Homo sapiens: one gene and its partner. The protein of the gene in region 2 purifies or fractionates together with the protein of the main gene of each other region. This does not show direct contact. Each region holds a gene or a part of one and is shown on either strand. Other genes may lie near its edges. The genes, in order: TBC1D15 and LRTM2.

What was found.
Region 1: the proteins of LRTM2 (region 2) and TBC1D15 purify together in Homo sapiens (affinity purification with mass spectrometry; one large-scale study listed by BioGRID and IntAct). This does not show direct contact.

What each region holds. Positions count from the first base shown.
Region 1 is NC_000012.12:71,912,718-71,916,534, reverse strand, and holds part of TBC1D15 (TBC1 domain family member 15), read right to left. Parts: intron 3,456-3,817; exon of another isoform or gene 3,403-3,455; intron 2,710-3,402; coding exon 2,609-2,709; intron 1-2,608. UniProt on the Homo sapiens protein: Acts as a GTPase activating protein for RAB7A. Does not act on RAB4, RAB5 or RAB6.
Region 2 is NC_000012.12:1,826,757-1,830,573, reverse strand, and holds part of LRTM2 (leucine-rich repeat and transmembrane domain-containing protein 2 precursor), read right to left. Parts: intron 3,168-3,817; exon of another isoform or gene 3,165-3,167; 5' UTR 2,980-3,164; exon of another isoform or gene 2,597-2,979; coding exon of another isoform or gene 2,426-2,596; coding exon 2,359-2,425; intron 1-2,358.

The DNA of each region.
Region 1 (3,817 bases), about 70 Mb from region 2:
TATTAATTCTCAATAAGCTGTTTCTCTTTAATGAATTTTAAAAACCAGTTTATTAATAGACTAACTCAAGGCTTTAGGATATAGTTCCTCCACATTTACCAGAGAGATCTATAGAGAAGGGGCAGAATCAACTCTGATTAACAGGATCATTTTTGCTGTGACACAGTCAAAGACTAGAGCTGATCTGGGAATACCAACATGGCATAGACATTTGCTACCCACTCTGCTGTAAAAAAGAAACATGTCCATAATGACAGACACCATATTCGAAAAAGTGGTTACTCCTGGAGAAGGGAGAGTGGGATCAACAATGGATATACAAAGGGCTTCAAATGTGTCTGTAAATAAATGTGTCTGTATGGGGCAGGGGAGGGGGAGATGGAGAGGAGAAAGGAATTAAAACTATATGGCAAAATGGATGATGGGTATAACAAAGTTCATCAGATCACTTGTACTTTGTATTTCCATGATAATAGACAAAGTCTATGCCTAGACCTACATTAGATGCAAGTAAACATCAACAAAAGTAAATTTACAGACGTTAGGTTCAGCCACCACAAAGGTAGTACAAACTTACATGAAGTAAAGCTATAAAACAGAAACACAGAATCAAGAAACAGCAGCACAGATTTAGGGACATCAAACAAGGGCAATGCAGTGAAAAACAATCATACAGGTTATTTTGATTGCCATATATTTCCCTCTCATTCAAATATTATGAAAGAAAAGATGTTAGCAGACAACATAATCATAAGATATCTTTTTTAGAATAAAGACTAGAAAAATCCCCAGAACATCCTTAATGGAAAAGGCAAACACAGAGAGCATTTACTGTGAAAATGACAGAACAAAGAAACTGAACCTTCATACACAAAAAATGACGGACTGTAAAGTGTTTATTACACATGTTCAGAAGGTAGTCTTTACATATGAGACCTATATACACACGTCTGTATGCATGTGTGTATGTGGCATTATATGTCAATATATATTTACATGCCAATATTGGATTAGTTTTATTGAAAACTTATTGCATGATACTAAATGCAGTATGTTCATCTTAGTTGTGTTTTTTTTTTTTTTTTTAGAATATCTACTATAGCAATTTAAACTAATCACTGGGGAAAGATTCACATGTTTATTCTACAAAAACCCGTTGAACAACCTCATGTCAGGCATTAGGAAAATTCTGGTATGCTACCAGTGAAACAAGATATAATCCCTTTTATCAAGGAACATACTAGCTCTGGTGAAAAGAGGATAAACAACAAAAACACAAGGAAGGCAGACAACAGTTTTTATGTAATTAGTATCAGCTGTACAGACCTTTATAACAAATGCCTCAGGTTTCTAGAGCACTTGGGAGTAAATGGAACTAAGAAGGTAGACAAATCAATCAAAAAAGGAAGGAAGACAAACTATGACATTACCAAATTACTGCATTGATAATCCTTCCAAATAGTCAAAAAAAATTAATTTATGGCAAAAAACCAATTTGAATATTCATGAATTTAATGTAAAAGAACATTTTAAATCTATCAAATCTTACCAAGTATACATTTAGAAAAAAACTGAAAGAAGCAAAAACAAGTTGAATCTATGGACAAGAGATTTGGGGAAATAGCCACAAGCAGGGAAAATTTGAAGGAGAAAGAAAAATAGGCAAGCAAAAGGGAAAGAATAGAAGTAAAGAAAAAAGGAGAAGGGTACCACTTCCAAATTTCACATTTGTATCCCAGAAACTCTGAGTTAAACCCTGTATTACAGGAAAATATTTCAGATGGTTAGATTCAAAATGTTTATCCCTTGCAAGCAAGCCAGCCATTTCAATATCCAACATAAAGGCCCAGCATCCAGTATGTTAGTGTTATTTTGAAAAAACACAGCAACCTCTATGTAGTCAGGTCTTTGGACTTCATCTGCCTTTATCTAGTCTCACCCCTTCTGCTTTTATTTTTCTGAGATTGCTTGAAGAGACTTTTCTTTTATTTTCCTGTCAATATTCTCTGCACTATTATCCTAGAACTCTGTCTCAAAGATTTAACAATGATAATAGATAAAATGTTCTTTGTACTAACATGTATATATAGACAGTTCAATTCTAATAATCACATACTTCTGGGAAAATAACAATGAATTCCTAAGAAAGTGTCAGAGTTACAAATAGTTCAAACACATCTGGAGAAAAATCAGTTACTATAATGACAAAATTCAAAATCTTCACAAAAGGTAAGGATATTACTTGGCATGACTAAGCTTTATCTCTGAAACAGATGATATTAAAGTTCAACTATTCCACAAAATTGAATTCATCTATTTTATCAATATTCTGTAATGACACATGGCTCTTTAGTAGAAAATAAGCATTTACTGATATTAAATCCTGATTATTCCTATACTACAGGCACAAACTATTTCCTGTATTAAAAATACCACCAGTATTTCTAAGCCCTTGAAAGGCTACTAAAAAGAAAAAGTAACAAAAGGCATGAGGTAATTTTTTTAAGTTCCATCATAGTTGGCTAAATATAAAAATCAACCTTATACTATAAAATTATACAACTAAAATTTTAAAAATCAGTTTAATGGAAGGAATCTCTGTTCTTACCATTTGGTCCATGTAAGAGGCAAAGCACCAAAAGGCATCCACTTCATTTTCCATCACATATAAAAGAGGGGAAAGTAAATCACTCATTCCTTGAACATATCCTAAAAAGAAAAGAAAAAATCATCTCTGAAAACCCAAGTTTTATGTAACCTTCTGCAAGTTGTGCATATCACCACCATTTCGCTTAAAATTGTATCTTTCTCCTTTGCATTTAGAAATTGGTAGACACTGATGTTCACCAAGAAAAGAATATAAATGAAGAGGAGGAACTCTAGTCATAAGTAAGAAAGATGAGTTGTTTTAGATTGAGATGTCAAACAATATATAGCTTCCAGTACGTGTCTCAGTGCAGATACACTATCAAGAGTGGGTAATATTTTTAAAAATAATGTGCAAGAGCATCATGAGAAAGAAGAGGGGTGAAGAGATAATCCAGAGGAACATCAAATGTAAGAGTATACACTCAAAGACAGGTTTAAGAAAGACCAGTCAGAGAAGTAAAGAAAAAAATCAAGCGAGAATAATGTTGCAAAAATTAACAAGAAAGTTGCAAGCCCAGAGTGGTTAGCAATGCCAAACTACCATGAGTAAGCCACATAAAACAAGAACTTTGGGTTCAACTGCTTTAACAATCAGACCTTTAGATTCACATAACAGGAGTTACAAAATTAAGAGCCTCTTTTAAATAGTCATATCTACGTCCTTCTTTCTTTTTTTGTTACTCTCTACACCCAACCAATGCCAGCAACTGGGCTTAACCCAATCAATATTTTGTACCTAAAGTGACCACTTACCTACATGTCTCTTGATATTATTACAATTTCTCAATGGTGACAGTAATAGAGCCCTTGATTAAAAGAAAAACTAGAAAATTAAGGAGTCAGATCCCTCACTTAAAAATAAGAAAAAGTGTTAGTTTTACTTTTTCACCTGAACATGTCAAACTTCTTTTTTACTTCCTCTTATAAAACCCTCAATTATCCTTGTTTTACAATTTTCAAGACTTGAAAAATTTTCAGACTTAAGAGGTTCTTGAACCAATGAAGGGACACGAACTTATACTAAGCCTTTTTACTTAAACGTTATCATTCAACTTCGGTAACTTTTGTGTATTTATTAAAATCATGTAGAAATTTCTTTATTGGTAGCTTGGGAAGTCTGGAAAATAGTCTTTCATTTGCGAATCCAAAGTTTACATTTTTATTCACC
Region 2 (3,817 bases):
GGTCCCACTGACACCATGGATGTTGACACAAGAAAGGAGATAAGGTTGTCAGAGAAACCTGCTCCCATGCCCTCTCCCAGTGTCACTGCTGGGACAGAGTTTGTTTCCCAGGGAAAATGGCCAGGCTGCTGGCTCCCTCCCCTCTGTGGCCCACCCCAACTCTGGAGCTGTGTATGGAAAGGCGAGAGCACAAAACAGCACTCCTAGCCCTGTCCTTCACGGCGTCCCAAGTGCTGTTATGTTTCCATCAATCCCACACCCATGATGACGCCAGCAGTTTGGCATGAGGATTTAGAGCCCAGGCTGTGCACCTAGGGTCCCACTGTGGGAGTGACAGGCTAAGATGTACAAACCCACTTCAACATTGACAAGTCATGGGGCCCAGGACACATTCCACTTTAACCCCCACCCTAAAGCCATCTAGGCTCTCAGCCTGGGCTTCTGTTCCTAGGGGCTACAGGGCAGCATTCCTGCACAATGGCCCGATGAATAGAATTCGTTTCCTGGTCCCATCTTTTGCCCAAGACCCTTCTGCGTAGCGAGCATGGGGTCCTGTCTGTAGGGCTGGGAGAAGTAACCCTCAGGGAACAATCACATCAGAGCAGTGCCTTCCATTATGCAGCAGCCCTTTCCAATAGTGGCCTCAAAAACCCCTAAGTGTCCTCCTGAGTAGCAGAGAAGCCTGCTCATCGTGAAAGAGAACTGGGAAGAATTCAAAATAGTTCAGCCCCACCAGGTCAGCCCAGCCGAGGTCAGTTCCACCCAGCCTAGAGAAAAGACCCCAGCCAGAGAACTGATGGAGAAGTTCAGACCCAGCTCACAGCCCATCGGCCCACCCTGACATGGGACCTGGGACCTGGCTGTCCCAGGTCGGGGTGGGCCGATGGGCTGTGAGCTGGGTCTGAACAGCCTTGAGTCTTGTCCAGTAGGGGTCTGGGTGTCTGCTGTCCCAAAGGGTGGAGCTTGAAGGAACAGGATGAGACTCTCCCCTTCCCTGCCTGGAGGATCGATGACAGCTGAGAGCTGACACGTGGCTAGATCTGGCCCAGGCCTCCCTGCAGCCTAACAGCAAGCCTCACTGTTCTTGGCGAGAAGTGAGCACAGGTACAGCCATGGAAGCCACCGGAGACCCTTTTTCTGGCCATCTTGGGTTACCTCATGTCTCCGCTCACCCTCTCACCCCTCTGAGCCCGTCTGCTACCAGATCAGCCAGCCCCATACCACCACCCCAAGCCATTTGAAAATCAGCATTCTTCAGACTTGACTTTCCCCAGGAAATAAAATCCAACGCATTCAGCTCCCTCTCAAAAGGATCTGCATCACCAGAAGCCGCTCGCCCCTCCCAGAGAAGGGCCTGACAGCAGGCTAAGAGAGCCGCTGCGGAAGAGCGACTCCCTGCGCCCCCCACCTCCCTGGAGATCAAGGTGGCATAAAAGCTCCAGTGACAAGAAAACATAAGCCCGTATTGCGAGGTGTTGAGTGATTCTAGAATGAGGCTGAAAGGAGATCTGAGTCACTCAGGGGCCAGCCTCTCTCACATGGTGAATAATTCAGGCTGCCCGTGTTGGGTGCTGGATCAGAGCGGGAAGTCAGGCGGAATGCCGTCCCGCGGGACCGTTTCCTCCCTGCCACCGTGTAGCCTTGGGCAGACCAGCCCTTGCTGACCTGGTCCCTTTGCCACATATAAAGAGAATTCTCAGGGCTCCTTTCACCCTGACAGCTGCCAAGTGTTGCCTTCATTCACGCTTCCTCCCCTTTTTGGTAAATGGACGGCTCAGTCTGCCTATATGCAGGAGGGGTTGGACCCACTCCCCAAAGTCTCTTCCAGCGCCGCATCCCACGAGCCCACTAGGTCCTCTACCGAGAGTTGGGAAAGCGGAGGCATAAGGAGCATAAGAGACATCTCCAAGCTGACCCAGCTCCTGGCCGAGGCCAGCCAAGGGGGCAGTTCCCCACGGGAGCAAAAGGGCTCGCCGCAGTCTGTGACACAGGCCGACAAGCTCAGGCACCAGTGAGGCTGTTTAAGACTCAGCAGGCCTGCATTCCAGCAGAGCTCTTCTCCTGTTGGGGACCCCAGCAAGCTCACAGAGACTTACCTGGGGGAGGTAGAACAACTGTCGTGGCCTCCAGCTCCAGGTCTAACCACTCAGCACTCAGCGGTGACTCTGACTGGCAGGGATGCTGTCACCGTGGGCGTGACCCTGGCTTCCCAGAACATAGCCTCGGGTACCCCAGGAAGATCTGGCGTAGGCCTCCCTGCAGCCTGAGTGTGGCTAAGGTCCCATATGGCGCTACCTACAGTCACCTCGGCACCCCCACCCAACCCGCACCCCCCTCCGAGGCCAGGGGTGTACTCACAGGAGACTTGCCTCCACTGCAGGGCGAGCCTGCCCCTCTGCCCAGGGCTGCTGCCCGGCGCCAGCATGGTGAGGCCCACGGCTCTCCGGGCCCTGTCGCTCTGGGGAGAGAGGAGCCCCTGGGTGCGCCGCCTGTCAGTCCTGAGGGAGGGAGGAGCACTGAGCACAGGCAGGCGCGGGAGCCCCGTTCCAGCCCAGGGGTTAGGGAGAGGGCCCGGGTGTCTCTTTACACTCCTCATGCCCTCTCCTGTTCCTCTCAGTTATGATTCCCTGGGTGGGGGAAGAAGAGGAGCCAGGAAGCCTTCAAGCCCCTGGGATGGGGGCGGGGCAGGCTTCGGCTTTCCAGGAGCCCGAGGGTCGGGCACAGTGCCGCAAAGCTGGGGGTGCACCCATGGGCCTACCCAGCCTCATCTGCCTTCTTGTTGCCTCCCGAGTATGTTGATCACTCAGATGTTTTCATGGCAACCTGGTCTCCCATCTGGGCATTCCTTGAGTTATGGGTGGAGAAACTGAGGTCATCTCTCCGAGGTGAGCAGAGTGAGGTCACAGGCCACAACTGTCACCTGTCCCTGGAGGCTCCCCTCACCTGGGTCCCGGTTCCTCTAGCCCCGCCACAGCTCACCATGGCCCGAGGGAGGCAGGGGCCAGGCCCTTGGCAGCTGCAGCCGCGTAGGGTGTGAGCCGCTGGATGGCCTGCTGCTTCCCCCTGCACCACCGACGCCCACGCAGAGGTGAATAGCAGCACTCTGTCTTCCGCCAGCCGGGCTATAATAAGACTCATCAGCTCAGGGGTTCATGCTGCGGCAGCTGCTAGGAAGAGACAGGGACACAAGGAGAGGTGAGAACGCAGAGTAGGGGCGCTGAGGCAGCCAGGGCGCAGGAGCAGGCTTCCTTCGCGGGGGACAAGGGGGCACTTACCCTTTCTAGGGTCTGCCCCCCCCAGTGTCTCCCAACTGGGACACAGGCTGTGTGCTGGGGTCTCCACTTCCTTCCAGATGGGAGGCCCAGGCTGCCAGCCCATCAGAGAGGGGGACAGGGGACTGGCATGTGTTTACCTGCTGCAGCTGGCAAGGGCGGGGATGGGCAGGGAGGGAGGGAGGATGCCCGCACCCCTCTCCTTCGCCCTCCACGGGCTCCCTGCGTCAGCCCACTGCTCCAGGCGGCTCCCAGCCTCTGACCTTCCTTGGTTGCCAGATTTGTCCCTGGGTAATTCCTGGTTGCAGCCTCCCTCTCCCTGCCCCCATGGGCCTATGGAATTCTGGGAGCCCAGGAGACAATATCAGAGTGAAAAAGACAGGCCCAGAGGTGGATGGAGCTGCCGAGAAGCTTCAGTGCTGAGCCCAGAATCTTGGCCTGTCTGTGCAGGTTTCCCCTCGGGCATTAGGGTCCTGCTGCAAACCCTGTTGCCCCCATCTTCTCCCCTCTGGTCCCCTCGGCCCCTCCCTCCTTGGGTGCTCCTC